Linked DNA regions of Homo sapiens: region 1 is linked to region 2. The links come from fine-mapping of genetic effects on gene expression. Tissue or cell type: whole blood. Region 2 holds a variant in brackets; the other region holds the start of a gene. All regions are shown on one strand. Distances are between the middles of the regions.

Region 1 (8,100 bases), 88 kb before region 2:
TGGCACCCCTACCCACACCCACACCTGCCTCCCCACCACCCTGCAGTCTGCCACGTGATCAAGCAGGGCCGCTGCACGCTGGTGACCACGCTACAGATGTTCAAGATCCTGGCGCTCAATGCCCTCATCCTGGCCTACAGCCAGAGCGTCCTCTACCTGGAGGGAGTCAAGTTCAGTGACTTCCAGGCCACCCTACAGGGGCTGCTGCTGGCCGGCTGCTTCCTCTTCATCTCCCGTTCCAAGGTGGGCCCCAGAGGTGCTGGAAGGCCAGGGATGCATGGGCCTGCCAGGGCCAGGCTGATATAGGCACGGGAATTGTCATCCCCAAGTTACAGGACCCAGGGCCCCAGAGATGGGGGCTGTAGCTGGGATGGCTCAGGAAATGCTGGCAGGGCAGGTGTGGACTGAGGCTCCCAGACCCCTCCAGGTGGTACAGCTTGGCGTCCACACCTGTCCACAGGTAGGGGTCCCAGGGGTGGGCCCCACAGAGCCCCACAAGCAAGGAACAATCATCAAGAGGGTAAAAAAACAACTAAGTGGGTCATAGGCTACACAGGACAGGCTGGTGGACAGCTGGGGAGGCCTGTGCGACACCGACACTCAGGCCAAGGCGTAAAGAACCAGGGGGGCCAGCGGCCAGGAACTGGACACAAAGGCCCCAAACAGGCATGGGCTGACGCAGGGAGTCCCCGGTGGCTGGAGGGGGTGGGAGATTGGCTGGGCGGGACTGTGCCTGTCCCGTGGGCTCCAGGGAGGGCAGGATCTGCTTCATGATTCTCAGGCCCCTGTGGCTGCCATGGGGAGCCTGGATGGCGGAGCCGGGGCCAGGGAGGCAGCCCTGGGCTCAGGGGTGAGAGGCAGGCAGGGATCCAGGGACTGGTGCTGACCCATGGAATCCCCCAGGATTTGGTGGTGGCTGTACACAAGGTCTCCCGGGAGGCAGGGGATGTTACTGCCTGCTGTGTGGGCAGGGTGGCCCCAAGTGAGCCAGATCCTGACTCCCCCACCCGCCTTGCTGCTGCAGCCCCTCAAGACCCTCTCCCGAGAACGGCCCCTGCCCAACATCTTCAACCTGTACACCATCCTCACCGTCATGCTCCAGTTCTTTGTGCACTTCCTGAGCCTTGTCTACCTGTACCGTGAGGCCCAGGCCCGGAGCCCCGAGAAGTAAGTGCTGCCTTGGAGGAGGTGATGTCCCTGCAGCTGAGAATAGCAGGAGGATGACTCCACAGACTTCAGCAGGAGAGGCTGGGGGTTGTCCAGGGTGTCCAGGGAGGGGCACTAGGCCAGGCAGAGCCCTAGCTCTGTGCCAGGGCAGCAGGAAGCCACACAGTGTGTGTGAGCCGGAGCAGGAGAGGGGGCCCTGACTCCCATGTGTCCTTGCAGGCAGGAGCAGTTCGTGGACTTGTACAAGGAGTTTGAGCCAAGCCTGGTCAACAGCACCGTCTACATCATGGCCATGGCCATGCAGATGGCCACCTTCGCCATCAATTACAAAGTAAGGCCTGGGCCCTGCCCAAACATTCACTGTCTGCCCACCCAGCCCCACCCCATGAAGCCATCTGTCCCTCATCCCCACAGGGCCCGCCCTTCATGGAGAGCCTGCCCGAGAACAAGCCCCTGGTGTGGAGTCTGGCAGTTTCACTCCTGGCCATCATTGGCCTGCTCCTCGGCTCCTCGCCCGACTTCAACAGCCAGTTTGGCCTCGTGGACATCCCTGTGGAGGTCAGTGGCCCTGTGGAGGTGACCCTGGGGCTCAGCTTGATGGGTCCCTCCTATGGCAGTGACCCTGAGCTGGGCTGCAGGTCTCCAGCTCACCATCCCTCCCTGCCCCGACAGTTCAAGCTGGTCATTGCCCAGGTCCTGCTCCTGGACTTCTGCCTGGCGCTCCTGGCCGACCGCGTCCTGCAGTTCTTCCTGGGGACCCCGAAGCTGAAAGTGCCTTCCTGAGATGGCAGTGCTGGTACCCACTGCCCACCCTGGCTGCCGCTGGGCGGGAACCCCAACAGGGCCCCGGGAGGGAACCCTGCCCCCAACCCCCCACAGCAAGGCTGTACAGTCTCGCCCTTGGAAGACTGAGCTGGGACCCCCACAGCCATCCGCTGGCTTGGCCAGCAGAACCAGCCCCAAGCCAGCACCTTTGGTAAATAAAGCAGCATCTGAGATTTTAAAAAGCCCTGCCTCCACCTCGTCTGTGCCACACGGTGTTTGCTGGGGGCTCGGGGACAGAGGGTCACTGAGGAAGGTCCCAGCACCCTCCCCACAGGCGTGTGATGTTGGTGAAACCCTCTGGCACTTTCAGCACTTGAACATGGACTTGTCCCTGCCCAGAGAATTCAGTGCATATTTTCTAGTTTAACAAGCACCCCCATATTTCTGAGGTCTCTTTCACATTTTAACAACTCAGGTGCTGAGAGAAGCCTTAGGATGTGTGATATTTTTTTCTTTCCCATAATACATAACAGCATGCCTTTCTCTCGGGTGGTGTCTGAGACTTGAGGAATATGATCTGCATCATTACAAGTATTGACTCTGTCCGGTGGCTCAAGCCTGTAATCCCAGCACTTTGGGAGGCCAAGGCGGGCCCATCACAAGGTCAGGAGATCGAGACCATCCTGGCTAACACAGTGAAACCCCATCTCTACTAAAAATACAAAAAATTAGCCAGGCATGGTGGCGAGTGCCTGTAGTCCCAGTTACTCGGGAGGCTGAGGCAGGAGAATGGCGTGAACCCAGGAGGTGGAGCTTGCAGTGAGCCGAGATAACGCCACTGCACTCCAGCCTGGGCAACAGAGCGAGACTCCAACTCAAAAGAAAAACAAACAAGTACTGACTCTGTCATGCTCTTTGGGGGCCTGCGCTGCTCTACCATCTCATGTCACAGTCAGGGAGCTCTGGCTGAGCATCAGCCAGGATGTGACCTGGAAACCTGGCTTGGCTCTTAGGTTGATAGTGTTATTCCTTTCAATGGACTCACTCATCACAACTCAAGAACTGCAGAGTAGGCAGCACGGAGCCAGTCAGAGAATCCTTGCCTCCTTAACAGCCAAAGCCTTTGGACACAAAGTTATAAACATACTTTAAAGTCTATTTCCAGCCCCAAAATTCCACTGTGCTGGGGGTGGGAGCATTTTTATAACAGGCGGCTTGTGGCAACCCCAGAGCTGGTGCTTTTGGACAAACCTCCACTCCCTACCTAAAAGGGCTGCTCCCTGGTGTGCTGTAATTGGGGCCTTGAGCCTGATCCAGCTTTGAGGGTCACGGAAGGGGCGTCCCCCAGGCCAGGGGTTCTCCAGCCCGAGTATTAGAATTTTGGTTGGAATCGGACAGAATATCAGGCCTCCACCAGGGGGCGCCATGGCTCCAGCGAGGCCCAGGTGGTTTCAGGGCTCCGAGAGACAACCTGGGCAAGGGGATCACCAGGGTCGCGGGTTGTGGGAGCTCCTGGGAGAGGCCCCCCGGGACAGGTGGACTCTGCAACCATTCAGGGAGGAGGGGGCTGGGGCTCCGTGGGATTTGGGGTAGCACAAAGATCTGAGAGGGAACCTATGGCCCAGATGAAGTCTTAGGATGCCCAGGTCAGGGGCACTGCAGCCTCGAGTGGTCGCTCAGGGGGCCCTGGCCCGACCCAGTTTCAAGCGGCTCAGGTAGAGAAGGGCACTATCAAGGCTTCCGGGCTACGGGGGCGTGGTCTGATGCGGGGGCGTGGCCTCCGCTGGGCAGGGCGACGCGGAACCGAGGCGGCGGCGGCGGCTGCGGCGGCAGGAAATCGGGGCTCGGCCCCGCCGGCGCGCGACCCCATCCCCATCCCGGTCCCTGCAGAGCGATCCCCGGGCCCAGATATGGACGCAGCAGAGCCGGGTAGGGGGTCGGGGATCCGGGAGGGGCCTCCCCCGACCATCCCCTGCTTCCTACATTGAGGGCACACACTTGTCCCGCTCCGTCCTGAGAGCCAGGAGAGGAGTTCCTGAATGGGAAGGACCCAGGGATCCTCCATTGTGGGGAGCCCTGTGCCCGGATGGGTTCAGGACCCCAGCCCTTCACTCCCCCTCCCCCTTTTGATCCCTCACCCCAGACGCCTGGGGGAGGGGGCCCAGGAAGGGGAAGTGACTGCTTCTGCTTCTGATTTTTGTGATGGGGGCAGGGTGCCACGACTGCTGAGGGAGAGGGCAACGCGGTAGGATCCCCACAGGGCCCCTCTGTAGCCCTGGGGAGTCGGCAGTGCTGGTCTAGGCCCCTTAGGAGAGGGGGCAGGGGGGCAGCAGTAGAAATGTGGCGGGGTCCGACTTGGTGTTTCCGGCCGTCTTTGTGTCTGTGTTGTGTATGTGGAGTGTCATTCGGTCTTTATGTCCCTCACGGCTTCAGTCTCTCCATGTGTGTTTCTGCCCCAGGCTCTGCCTGGCTGTCCCTTGTGTATTTCCATCTGTCTAGCCCGTGGTTCCATTGTCAGACCGGCTTTCTTCTCGGGACAGCCTGGTTGCATCTGGGGCATCTGTTTTGTTGGTTTGCTTCTGGGTGCAGGCAGACCCAGGGAGTGGGTGTCTCTGTTCCCCGAGCAGCTGTCTCTGGTCTCTGGTGGTGTGTGAGTCCATCTGCCTGCCTCGAGTTGGCCCCAACCAAGCCCCCCCCAGCCCTCTCTTTCTCTCTCTCACTCTTCCCTTTCTCTTCCACCCCCTCCAAATGAGACTGGTTGAGGTGCCGTGGGTGGAGGGAGGCAGTGGTTAGCCCATGTATTACACTCCCCTCCCCTAGGACTCCCCCCAGGTCCTGAGGGCAGGAAGAGGTACAGTGACATCTTCCGGAGCCTGGACAACCTCGAAATCTCACTGGGGAACGTGTGAGTCTGAGCCTGGATCACCCCCAAATCCTGCCAAGATGCCCCAAGCCCCTAACCATTTAGGTGCCTTGCAGTCCCATTTGGAACCTGTAACATCTGGACCTACATACCTAATAACCAGAGAAGTCTAGGATGGGACCCTCCAAAATGCCTCGGTATCCTAAAAGTGTCCCCCTAAATAGACTGGAAATCCCCAAAGTGGTCCTAGAACCCCTACATATCCTTGTAACCCCTTAAAATATTTGCGATCCCTATAATCCCACTCTATGAACCTCAAAGTTATCTGGGGCCCTTCAGATGCTTTTTCAAGTCCTATTTAAAAAAAACTCACCTGATTCCCCCAAAACACCATTCTTCAGACCTCCCAGACACAAGAGATGCCACAGAGGTGATGTTTGCCACAAACAACCCTAAGGTCCCCAGCACCCCTTGGCAGGACAGACTGGGTGTAAGGTGGCATCCTGACACACCTTTATCCCCCAGGACCCTTGAGATGCTGGCTGGAGACCCTCTACTCTCAGAAGACCCAGAACCTGACAAGACCCCTACAGCCACTGTTGTGAGTGGGGAGTAGGGGAACAGGGAGGAAGACCTCAAGCAGAGGGGGCCTTAGGAAGGCCAGGCCCCTGCCCTGTTTGCTTCTGAATACTGTCTCCCTCCCGCACAGACCAACGAAGCCAGCTGTTGGAGCGGCCCCTCCCCAGAGGGTCCTGTACCCCTCACAGGTAGGGGGGTCTGGAGGCCAGGACAGTGGGGACAGACAGGAGTCTTTCCTTCAACAAATCACCACTGATCCCCTGTTCCATGCAAGGCATCGTTTAGGTTTTGGGAATATGGCAGTACACACAACAGATCTCAGTCCCAGCCCTCAGGGAGACCCCAGGCAGGGTGGAGGCTGAGGTAGGAGGATCACTTGAAGCCAGGAATTCGTGACCATGCTGGGCAACAGTAAGACACCATCCCTACCAAAAGAAAAAATATTTTTTTAATTAGCTGGGTGTGGTGGTGTGTGCCTGTAGTCCCAGCTACTTTGGAAGCTGAGGCTGGAGGACTGATTAAGCCCAGGACTTTGAGGCTGCAGTGAGATACGATTGTGCCACTGCACTCCAGCCTGGATGACAGAGCAAGACCATGTCCAAAAAAATCAAACACAAGGCCGGACGCAGTGGCTCACGCCTGTAATCCCAGCACTTTGGAGGCTGAGGCGGGTGGACCACGAGGTCAGGAGATCGAGACCATCCTGGCTAACATGGTGAAACCCCATCTCTACTAAAAATACAAAAAAATTTAGCCGGGCGCAGTGGCGAGTGCCTGTAGTCCCAGATACTCGGGAGGCTGAGGCAGGAGAATGGCGGGAACCCAGGAGGCGGAGCTTGCAGTGAGGCAAAATAGGGCCATTGCACTCCAGCCTGAGCGACAGAGCGAGACTCCGCCTCAAAAATAAAAATAAAAAAACCCATCAAACACAGGCCGGGCACGGTGGCTCATGCCTGTAATCCCAGCACTTTGGGAGGCCGAGGCGGGCAGATCACCTGAGATTGGGAGTTCGAGACCAGCCTGACCAACATAGAGAAACCTCGTCTCTACTAAAAATACAAAAAATTAGCCGGGCATGGTGGCGCATGCCTGTAATCCCAGCTACTCAGGAGGCTGAGGCAGGAGAATCGCTTGAACCCGGGAGGCAGAGGTTTTGGTGAGCCAAAATCGCGCCATTGCACTCTAGCCTGGGCAACAAGAGCGAAACACAGTCTCAAAAATAAATAAATAAATAATAAAATAATAAAAAATAAAAAACAAAAAACAGTGAATCTGTAAAATTGCAACCAGGACAAGTGATCCCAAAGTAGTGTTTGGGGAGCTGTGAGGCTGTAGGACAGGTGCCACTGGGCTGGTCTGGGGGCTTAGGGAAGACATCCATAGCAGACTAGGGTGCAAAGGTCAGAGGTCCATCCATCTTCCCCAGGGGAGGAACTGGACTTGCGGCTCATTCGGACAAAGGGGGGTGTGGACGCAGCCCTGGAATATGCCAAGACCTGGAGCCGCTATGCCAAGGAACTGCTTGCCTGGACTGAAAAGAGAGCCAGCTATGGTGAGGACCTCTTCCGCCCAGCCCCAGTTACCAGGCAGTCCCCAGACCCCAGCTAGACCCAGAGCCCGGCTCTCTCTTCCCCCAGAGCTGGAGTTTGCTAAGAGCACCATGAAGATCGCTGAAGCTGGCAAGGTGTCCATTCAACAGCAGGTAGTCATGACCAGACCCCCCCGGAGAGCCCAAGCCCCCTAGAACCCCACCTTTGTCCCCCACAGATCTTCAGTATCCTCCTACACCACTCTGTCTTCCCCAGAGCCACATGCCTCTGCAGTACATCTACACCCTGTTTCTGGAGCACGATCTCAGCCTGGGAACCCTGGCCATGGAGACAGTGGCCCAGCAGAAAAGAGACTACTACCAGGTGAGGGGGGCAGGGTGGAATGTTACAGAGGTCACCCTGCTATCCTGCTGTCCTTCAGGCCTGATCCCCTCGTTTCCCAGCAAGCTGGGAGGAAGGCACCACTACCAACGTCGCCATTTCATTGATGAGGAAGCTGAGGCCCGGGGATGCTTGGGAACTTGCCCAAGGTTACCCAGCAAAGATTCAAGCTGGGCTTCCTGTGCAATTGCAAAACTTCACTTTACTTTTTTTCTTGAGACAGAATATCTTGCTCTTTTGCCCAGGCTGGGGTGCAATGGTGCGATCTCAGCTCACTGCAACCTCCGCTTCTTGGGTTCAAGCAATTCACTTGCCTCAGCCTCCTGAGTAGCTGGGATTACAGGCGCCTGCCACCACGCCCGGCTAATTTTTGTATTTTTAGTACAGATGGGGTTTCACCATGTTGGCCAGGCTGGTCTCCAACTCCTGACCTCAGGTAATCCACCTACCTCAGCTTCCCAAAGTGGTGGGATTACAGGCGTGAGCCACCACGCCCAGCCAAAAACTTCGTTTTTGTTTGTGGGGAGGGGAACGAGGTGCTGAGTGTTCTCAGGAGGAAAGCCTTGGTGTCTCTGCTTCCAAGCAGAAAGGATGGGGTGACTACATGAGACTTCTGGACTCAGGGGTCGGGGAGAGCAGGTCTGGAGAAGACCCCAGGAGGAGAATACTGACTCAGAAAAGGGTCCAGCCTGGCACGGTGGCTCATGCCTGTAATCCCAGCACTTCTGGGGGCCAAGGAGGGAGGATTGCTTGAGCCCAGGAGTTTGAGACCAACCTGGGCAACATAGTGAGACC
Region 2 (8,100 bases):
GGGCATGGTGGTGGGCGCCTGTAGTCCCAGCTACTGGGGAGGCTGAGGCAGGAGAATCGCGTGAACCCAGAAGGCAGAGCTTGCAGTGAGTTGAGATCGTGCCACTGCACTCCGTCTCGCTCTGTCGCCCAGGCTGGAGTGCAGTGGCACGATCTCGGCTCAGTGCAGCCTCCACTTCCTGGGTTCAAGCAATTCTTGTGCCTCAGCTTCCTGAATAGTTGGGATTATAGGCATGCACCACGCCTGGCTAATTTTTGTATTTTTAGTAGAGATGAGGTTTTGCCATGTTGGCCAGGCTGGTCTTGAACTCTTGATCTCAAGTGATCTCCCCACTTCAGCCTTGTGCCCTGCCAAGTATGCCATTTTTGAGTGCACAACTCAATGAAGTGAATATATTCACAACATCATCACTTCTATTTCCAAAACTTTCTCATCTCCCAAAAAAAGCCTTGTCCCCATGAGCAGTCACTCCTCATTCCCTTTCCCCAGCCTCTGGCGGCCACCAGTCTGCTTCCTGTCTCAGATGTGCCTGGTCTGGAAATTTCAGATCAGTGGGCTTGTGCACTGTGTGGCCTTCATGTCTGGCTTCCTTCACTCAGCATCGTGTCTTTGAGGTTCATCCACGTTGGAGCACGGGCCAGTGCGCCTTCTGCTTTGTGGCTCAGTCCCATCCCAACTGGGGAAGGTGCCTTCTGAGACAAGGCCTACAGGAGGTGAGCATGAGCGTACGGAGAGCACTGACCCTACCTCGAGGTGTCCACACACACAGAGGAGGGGCAGGAGGTGCCAGCCCTCGGGGGTGCCCATTAGACTCAGCATCTTCACAGCCACTCCAATGCTGCATCCAGGACAGACAGCAGTGAGGGGCATAGGAGGGTCCTGGGACCTAGGTGGTGGATGGTCAAGTGTCGCTGAGTTCGTGATGGAGGCGAAGGTGGCGCCACAGTACTTGCTGATGAAGAGGAGTCACGGTGCCCGAAGTCTCCGGTGGAATAGACGGGGATGGTTTTGAGGGGGAGACCGGTTCAGCTCCACGCTGTCAGGCCCAGGGTGTCCGTCCCCCAGCTGCACATGGGAGTCGCACTCATGGGAGAGGCCTGCTCTGCAGAGAGCAATTTGGAAGTCAACGGAGGCCAAAATATGGGACAGAAACTAGGAGAGGATGTCATAGAAGCAGAAAGAAGGACAGACACCAGGAGCAGAAGTGAAGCTCCACCAGGATCAAGAAGCCACCTCCAAGTCCAGCATCGGGTGTGACAGCTTCAGTGGAGTGATGGGGCCACAACTACTAGAAAATCGGAGGCTCTAGCCTCGTCAGCCCTTGGGGGGATTCAGAGCAAAGAGGTCACTGGGGGACATGCGGTGTGGGAGGGAAACTAAGGCTGTGAGCCCGGGAGAGCTGCTGGGCAGGTCCTTGAGGGAGGGAGAGGGCAGGACCTGCCGGGCAGCTCCTCTGGGTGCTGAGGACAAAGCGGTGACTGGATGTGCCTGCCAGAGGCTGGAGCTGAGCCTGTGGGCAGCTACGCCTCCAGCTCCCGCCCGCCCTCCTCTGCCTGTAGCGTGAATGCAGATCACGGTTCAGAGATTCAGAGCTAGGCCTCTTGGGGGGTTTCGATAAAAGAAATCCCCACCCCGGTCAAATTCGTTGTGCGCGTGTGTGTGTGTGTGTGTGTGTGTGTGTCACAGAGTCTCCCTCTGTTGCCCAGGCTGGAGTGCAGGGGCATGATCCTGGCTCACTGCAACCTCTGCCTCCTGGGTTCAAGCCATTCTCCTGCCTCAACCTCCCAAGTAGCTGGGACTACAGGCATGCGCCACCATGCCCAGCTAATTTTTGTATTTTTATTAGAGACAGGACTTTGCCATGTTGGCCAGGCTGGTCTCAACCTCCTGGGCTCAAGTGATCCGCCCGCCTCGGCTTCCTAAATTGCTGAGATTACAGGTGTGAGCTGCTGCACCCGCCCCACCCCCCCAACCCAGGTCAAATTCTGCACACAAAGTCACACTTTATTAATATTTTATATTGCACTATTCAAATGTGCCTAAAAGTTGGCTGCATGATAGTAACCAAGCCATAAAGGTGATTACAGGGACACAGGAGTCACCAGGGACTTGAACTGCCTGCTAGCTGTGTGGGTGCTGATAGGCGTCTCCACATAACAGGTGGGGACAATGAGGCTCAGAGGCTTTGTGACCTGCACCCCGAGCCCCTAGATAGGAGGAAGCAGCAGGGCGGGGGGCTCCCAGCCTGAAGGCAGTGGTGGTGGGTACAGTCTGGTACAGCCGCCCAGGAGGGCAATTTTCTAGAATCTATTCATATTAAAAGTGGACACGTTGAGGCTGGGCATGGTGGTTCAGGCCTGTAATCCCAGCACTTTGGGAGGCCAAGGTGGGAAAATCGCTTGATGCCAGGAGTTCAAGACCAGCCTGGACAACATAGTGACACCGCTGTCTCATAAACATTTTTTAAAATTAGCCAGATGTGATGGACACCATAGCTACTCAGGAGGCTGAGGCGGGAGGATCACTTGAGCCCAGGAGTTCAAGGCTGCAGTGAGCCGTGATCATGTCACTGAACTCCAGCCTGGGAGACAGAGTGATAACCCATCTCTATAAAAAATAAGAATGCATGTACCCTTTAGTCTCATCAATTCCCCTCCTGATTTTTTTTTTTTTTTTTTTTTTGAGGGGAATGGGGACAGAGTCTTACTCTGGTGCCCAGGCTGGAGTGCAATGGCGTGATCTTGGCTCACTGCAACCTCTGCCTCCCAGGTTCAAGCAATTCTCCCGCTCCAGCCTCTCGAGTAGCTGGGATTACAGACACCTGCCACCATGTCCGGCTGATTTTTGTATTTTTGTAGAGACAAGGTTTTACCATGTTGGCCAGGCTGGTCTTGAACTCCTGACCTTAAGTGATCCACCTGCCTCAGCCTCCCAAAGTGCTGGGATTACAGGCATGAGCCACCACACCCAGCTTTTTTTTTTTTTTTTTTTTTTTTTTTTTTTTTTTTTTTTGAGACAGGGTCTCACTCTGTCACCTGGGCTGGAGTGCATTGGTGCAATCATGGCTCACTGCAGCCTTGACCTCCTCGGCTCAAGCGATCCTTCCACCTCAGCCTCCTGAGTAGCTGGGACTATAACCATGTGCCACCACTCCTGGCTAATTTTTGTGTTTCTTTTTATTTTATTTTATATTTTATTTTATTTTATTTTATTTTAATTAATTTATTTTGAGACAGAATCTTGTTCTGTTGCCGAGGCTGAAGTACAGTGGTGCGATCTCAGCTCACTGCAACCTCTGCCTCCCAGGTTCAAGTGATTCTCCTGCTTCAACCTCCCGAGTAGCTGGGATTACAGGCATGTACCACCATGCCTGGCTAATTTTTGTATTTTTAGTACAGACAGGGTTTCACCATGTTGGCCAGGCTGGTCTCGAACTCCTGACCTCAGGTGACCTTCCCGCCTCAGCCTCCCAAAGTGCTGGAATTACAGGCATGAGCCACCGCACCCAGCCTATTTATTTTTATTATTAAATAAATAATTTTTTTTTGAGGGGAGGGGGGACAGAGTCTCGCTCTGTCACCCGGGCTGGAGTGCAGTGGCGTGAATCTCAGCTCACTGCAACCTCCACCTCCCAGGTTCAACCAGTTCTCTTGCCTCAGCTTCCCGAGTAGCTGGGACTACAGGCACCCACCACCAGGCCCAGCTAATTATTGTATTTTTAGTAGAGATGGAGTTTTGTCATGTTGGCCAGGCTGGTCTTGAACTCCTGACCTCAAGTGATCCGCCTGCCTCGGCCTCCCAAAGTGGTAGGATTACAGGACTGAGCCACCATGCTGGCCTACTTATTTATTTAGACATAGGGTCTTGCTCTGTCACCCAGGCTGGAGTACAGTGACATAGCTCACTGCAGCCTCGAACTCCAGGGCTCAAGTGATCCTCCTGTCTCAGCCTCCTGAGTATCTGGAACTATAGACACACACCACTACCTCTAGCAAGAGTGTTTTGCAAATGGTAGCTAAATACCTGGAGTGTGTGATCCTGACTGGGGTAACCGCCTCTGCCCGCCCTTGGACCACACATCACCCATATTGTGGGTCCAGCTGGGACGGGATGGTGGGCTTTCAGCTCTCAGCCTTCCTCATTTTGAAACAGCAAGAATTTGGAAAGTGAGGGATAATGCTTTCAATCTCTAGACACATCCAAATCTGTAGGAGCCTCCGCTGAGGGAACTGGGGACCTGCATTTTATTTAATTTTTTGAGACGGAGTCTTGCTTTGTCACCCAGGCTAGAGTGCAGTGGCGCGATCTCAGCTCACTGCAACCTCTGCCTCCCGGGTTCAAGCGATTCTCCTACCTCAGCCTCCCAAGTAGCTGGGATTAAGGCGCCCGCCCTCATGCCTGGCTAACTTTTGTATTTTTGTAGAGATGGGGTTTTGCCATGTTGGCCAGGCTGGTCTTGAACTCCTGACCTCAGGTGATAAGCCCGCCTTGGCCTCTCAAAGCGCTAGGATTACAGGTGTGAGCCACCATGCCTGACCTGGGACCTGCATGTTAAATGGGGCCACTGGCAGCGTTGTAGGGACTCCCAGTGGCCCGTGGGCACATGGATTGAAGCAAGAATCCCCAGCAGATCCCAAAACGAGTGGGGGACCATTTGAGGAGGGAGCCAGTGATGTTCTCACCTTCCTCAACGAAGTGCTAGGGAAACCAAGGCACAGAGAGGGAACCCTGGTGATGTGTACTGTCCCCTGCGCCCGCGTTCTGGATTCCCCAGCCTCCCACCTTGACCACCTACCTGGGACCCTCACAGGCCCATAGTGGCTCCTCCAGCTCCCAACAGACACCCTCAACCTGGTCCAGCCCAACCTGCCAGAGCCCCAGACAGGGCCGGAGTCTTGGGTTTGAGTCCTGCCTCTGCACCCTGC[T/G]TGCTCCCCTCTCTCCCTGAGCCCATTTGCCCCTCTATAAAATGGGCACATGTGCTCCTGCTCGAAGGGCTTGGTGGCAATCCCATGAGCACAGAAAGGTGCTGACGGCTGTGTCCATGCAGGGGTGCTCTCGCAAGGTCTGGGATTCTGTTTTTCCTTCTTGCCTTTGGGGACACCCAGGCTGGGAGAAGGGGGCCACTCATCTGCCAGGCTGGGAGAGCTGGAGGGTAGACGGGAGGTTGGACCGGCCCCATCTCCCTGCCCCTTCTCTACTGGGCCGCCAGGGGGCGATCTTACAATAGAAGAGGATCCGGGCATCTCCCTCTTCGCTGACCCCTCACTGCCCCTGAGTAAGCTCATTCCCACCGCAGGGAGGGCCTTTGCACTGGCATTCCCTCCGCCTGGCTAACTGCTGTACCCCTCCCTAAAACCCCTCGGAGCCCCCGGCCCTCCCTGGCTTTCTTTTCCCCTGAGCTGCCCCGTCCTCACCGCCAGCCGGTGTCCTGAGACCTTAGCTAAGGGGCTAGGAGCGTCCGCAGGGGCGGGCGCCTGGTCTTCCTCCTGGCACTGGTTCCCTCTCCTGGGATAGAGATGGGGCAACTCAGGCAGCCGCGGGCCTAGCTCCAGTCACTCTAGGTCAGTCGCCCCAACCCTTGGCTCGGAATCGACCCCTGCCCCAAGTAACGGGGTAAGGGGCTGGGCCGTGTGGCCCTAGGGAACGGGCTGCCCCTCCCTGGGCCGCAACCTTACGCCTGCCTGGCCCATGGGGGTTTTTTGGACGGAAGCGGGTCCCGGAGAGTGTTGAGGGATGAGGAGAGGCGTGGTGTGTGGGGAGGAGGTCTCTGGCGTCAGTCTCCCCACGTGGGTCACGGGTGGAAGTAACCTGCAGGTTTGCTCAGGCCAAGCAAGGTGTGCAGTGGCACCTTCAAGACCCCCATATGCAGTTTCAATTTCCCCCACATAGAGTTTCAAGGTCTCCCTCATAGTTTTAAGATGAAAGTTTTGGCAGGGTGTGGTGGCTCACATCTGTAATCCTAGCAGTTTGGGAGGCCAAGGCGGGCAGATCAATTGAGGTCGGGAGTTCGTGACCAGCCTGGCATCATGGTGAAGCCCTACTAAAATACAAAAAATAGCTGGGCATGGTGGTGCCCACCTGTAATCCCAGCTACTCGAGAGGCTGAGGCAGGAGAATAACTTGAACCCGGGAGGTGGAGGTTGCAGTGAGCCGAGATTGCACCACTGCACTCCAGCCTGGGTGACAGAGCCAGACTCTGTCTCAAAAAAAAAAAGATGGAAGTTTCTAGGGCCCCTTCATCAGTGCTTGGCAAGGCCCTATACCCACTCCCTAGTGAACATTTCTGTTCCCCTACGACTCCAGGGGGCATTTCAAGACCTAACACACTAGGACCCTCGATAAAGTTTGGAGGCCCCCACACTCTGGGGAGGAAATTGAGGCCCTGATTCAGATGCCTTGTCCTGGGCGGGGGGGCGGGTAGCGATTGCTGAGGGAGGGTGGTTGAGGCTGCCTGGGACACCCCAGCTCAAGTCCCTGCCCCTCTCCTGTGCGTTACTGAGGGTGACAATTGCAATTACAGAGCGCCTAACCCATGCCAGCCTTGCAGTCACCAGTTCCTGAAGAGGCAAAGGCCATTGTTGGTTTATTCCCCAGCTGGGGAAACAGGCTGTGAGGTTGAGTGAGGACAGGGCTTAGGTCTGACCCAAGAGGCAAGATTTTGCAGTCAGGAGTCTCTGTAATGACCCAGGAGGGGCTCATCTAGCACCCCTGTGCCCGCTGAGGAGACTACGGGAGCCATGGAGGGTGTTTGAGCAGAGAAGTAACCCAAGCCAGCCTTAAGCTAGGGACACTGCAGCAGGCACCCCCATGGCCCAGGCTGCAGCTCCCCCTTTGGCCACCAGGCGTTGTCCCGGCCTGACAAACGAGGTTTCCCAGGCCCTTGTCCTGGAGCCAGTGGGGAACTGGCTCCTACTTCCAGAATCTGCCACCACATCTTCAGGACGTAAAAGAAACCCCCTGAGCTTCTGTTTCCCCACACCGCCCCCCCGGCCCTCCCCCGCAAAGTGGAGCACTAATGGGACCAGCCTCCCCGGGAGAGGTCAGTGAGGAGATGCAAGTGAGGTGCTTCCGCATCCAGTGGGCACTCAGTGGATGTGTGGGCCACCAGCCCTGCCCGCGGCGCAGGGCAGACAGACAGATGGATAACCCTGAGACATGGCTGCAGGGTGAGGAACACGTTTCGCAGTGAGATACTGGGGTCCACTGGGACCTGCTGATCCTAGGGGCCTGAGGGGACATCCGGAGATCCAGAAGGAGGTGGAACCCCAGGGAAAGGAGGGAGTGCCCAGGCTGCACTGACCTCCCATCTGTGTGGCCAAGGAAGCCCGAATTTCCCATAAAAAATCAGCCTAGTTCGGAGCTTGCAGTGAGCCGAGATCGTGCCACTGCACTCCAGCCTGGGCGACAAAGCAAGAATCTGTCTCAAAAAAAAAAAATCAGCCTAGTTAACAGGCTTCCGGCTGCCTGGCATGACAGCTGGAAGGGAGTGAGCCCTCTGTCTTCAGGGGTGTGCAAGCTGACAAGGGGTCTTCAGCAGTGGCTGGCCAGGGGCTGGGCCAGGGGGCCACGCCAAGAGGCCTGAGTCTCCAAGAACACAGCAGGAGGTAAGTCACAGCCTGACCAGAGGGCACTAAGGATGGCACCGCCCAGCTGCTGGATTCCCCAGTCAGACAACAAGTTCCAAAGGGTTAGAGAACGGACATTCCTCGGCTCTGGGCGCCGAGCAGGCCACTCCTCCCTGGTGAAACGTAAGCTGGGCCTGGCCCCGTGGGCTGCGTGTTTTTCCAGTGGCTTTTTCAGCCACGGCCTGACCACAACCCAGATTCCGTTGGGTCGGCCATGTCCAAGTGTTTGTGTTCAGCTGGGCCAGATGGCAAGCGGGGCCGAGGCTGGGGACCCAGGCCTCCCAGAAGTCCTGGCGAAGCACCCCCAGGCCCTCACTCCAACATCCCTCTGCCTAGAAGCCCCTGCCCCGTGAAAGCCACTCAGCAGCCAGATAACAAAGGACAGGGGATGATCTCGCTGAGAAGTCCCAGGGGGATCTTGTATGTCCCGGGAGGAGGGGCCTCCCGGCCTGGCCAGGATTCCAGGTGCAAAGAT

The links. PIP is the estimated chance that this variant, and not a neighbour inherited with it, causes the effect.
Region 1: GMIP starts here. The variant in region 2 is fine-mapped to the expression of GMIP in whole blood (TOPMed, PIP above 0.99).

The regions. Positions count from the first base shown.
Region 1 is chr19:19,639,272-19,647,371 of GRCh38, reverse strand. It overlaps GMIP (GEM interacting protein), which reads left to right and starts at 3,715. Exons shown (of 21, transcript NM_016573.4): 1 at 3,715-3,861; 2 at 4,753-4,837; 3 at 5,321-5,396; 4 at 5,505-5,562; 5 at 6,801-6,926; 6 at 7,012-7,076; 7 at 7,180-7,287. The coding sequence starts at 3,843. ATP13A1 (ATPase 13A1) reads left to right here. Exons shown (of 26, transcript NM_020410.3): 22 at 47-243; 23 at 1,025-1,167; 24 at 1,387-1,498; 25 at 1,582-1,725; 26 at 1,840-2,174. The coding sequence ends at 1,950. RefSeq lists a silencer at 3,622-3,871 and enhancers at 4,502-4,661, 3,883-4,838.
Region 2 is chr19:19,551,660-19,559,759 of GRCh38, reverse strand. No RefSeq gene overlaps it. Among named protein-coding and RNA genes, the nearest start is that of CILP2, 17 kb to the right of the region's middle. RefSeq lists an enhancer at 7,190-7,749. The variant T/G (reference allele first, on the strand shown) is at 4,926.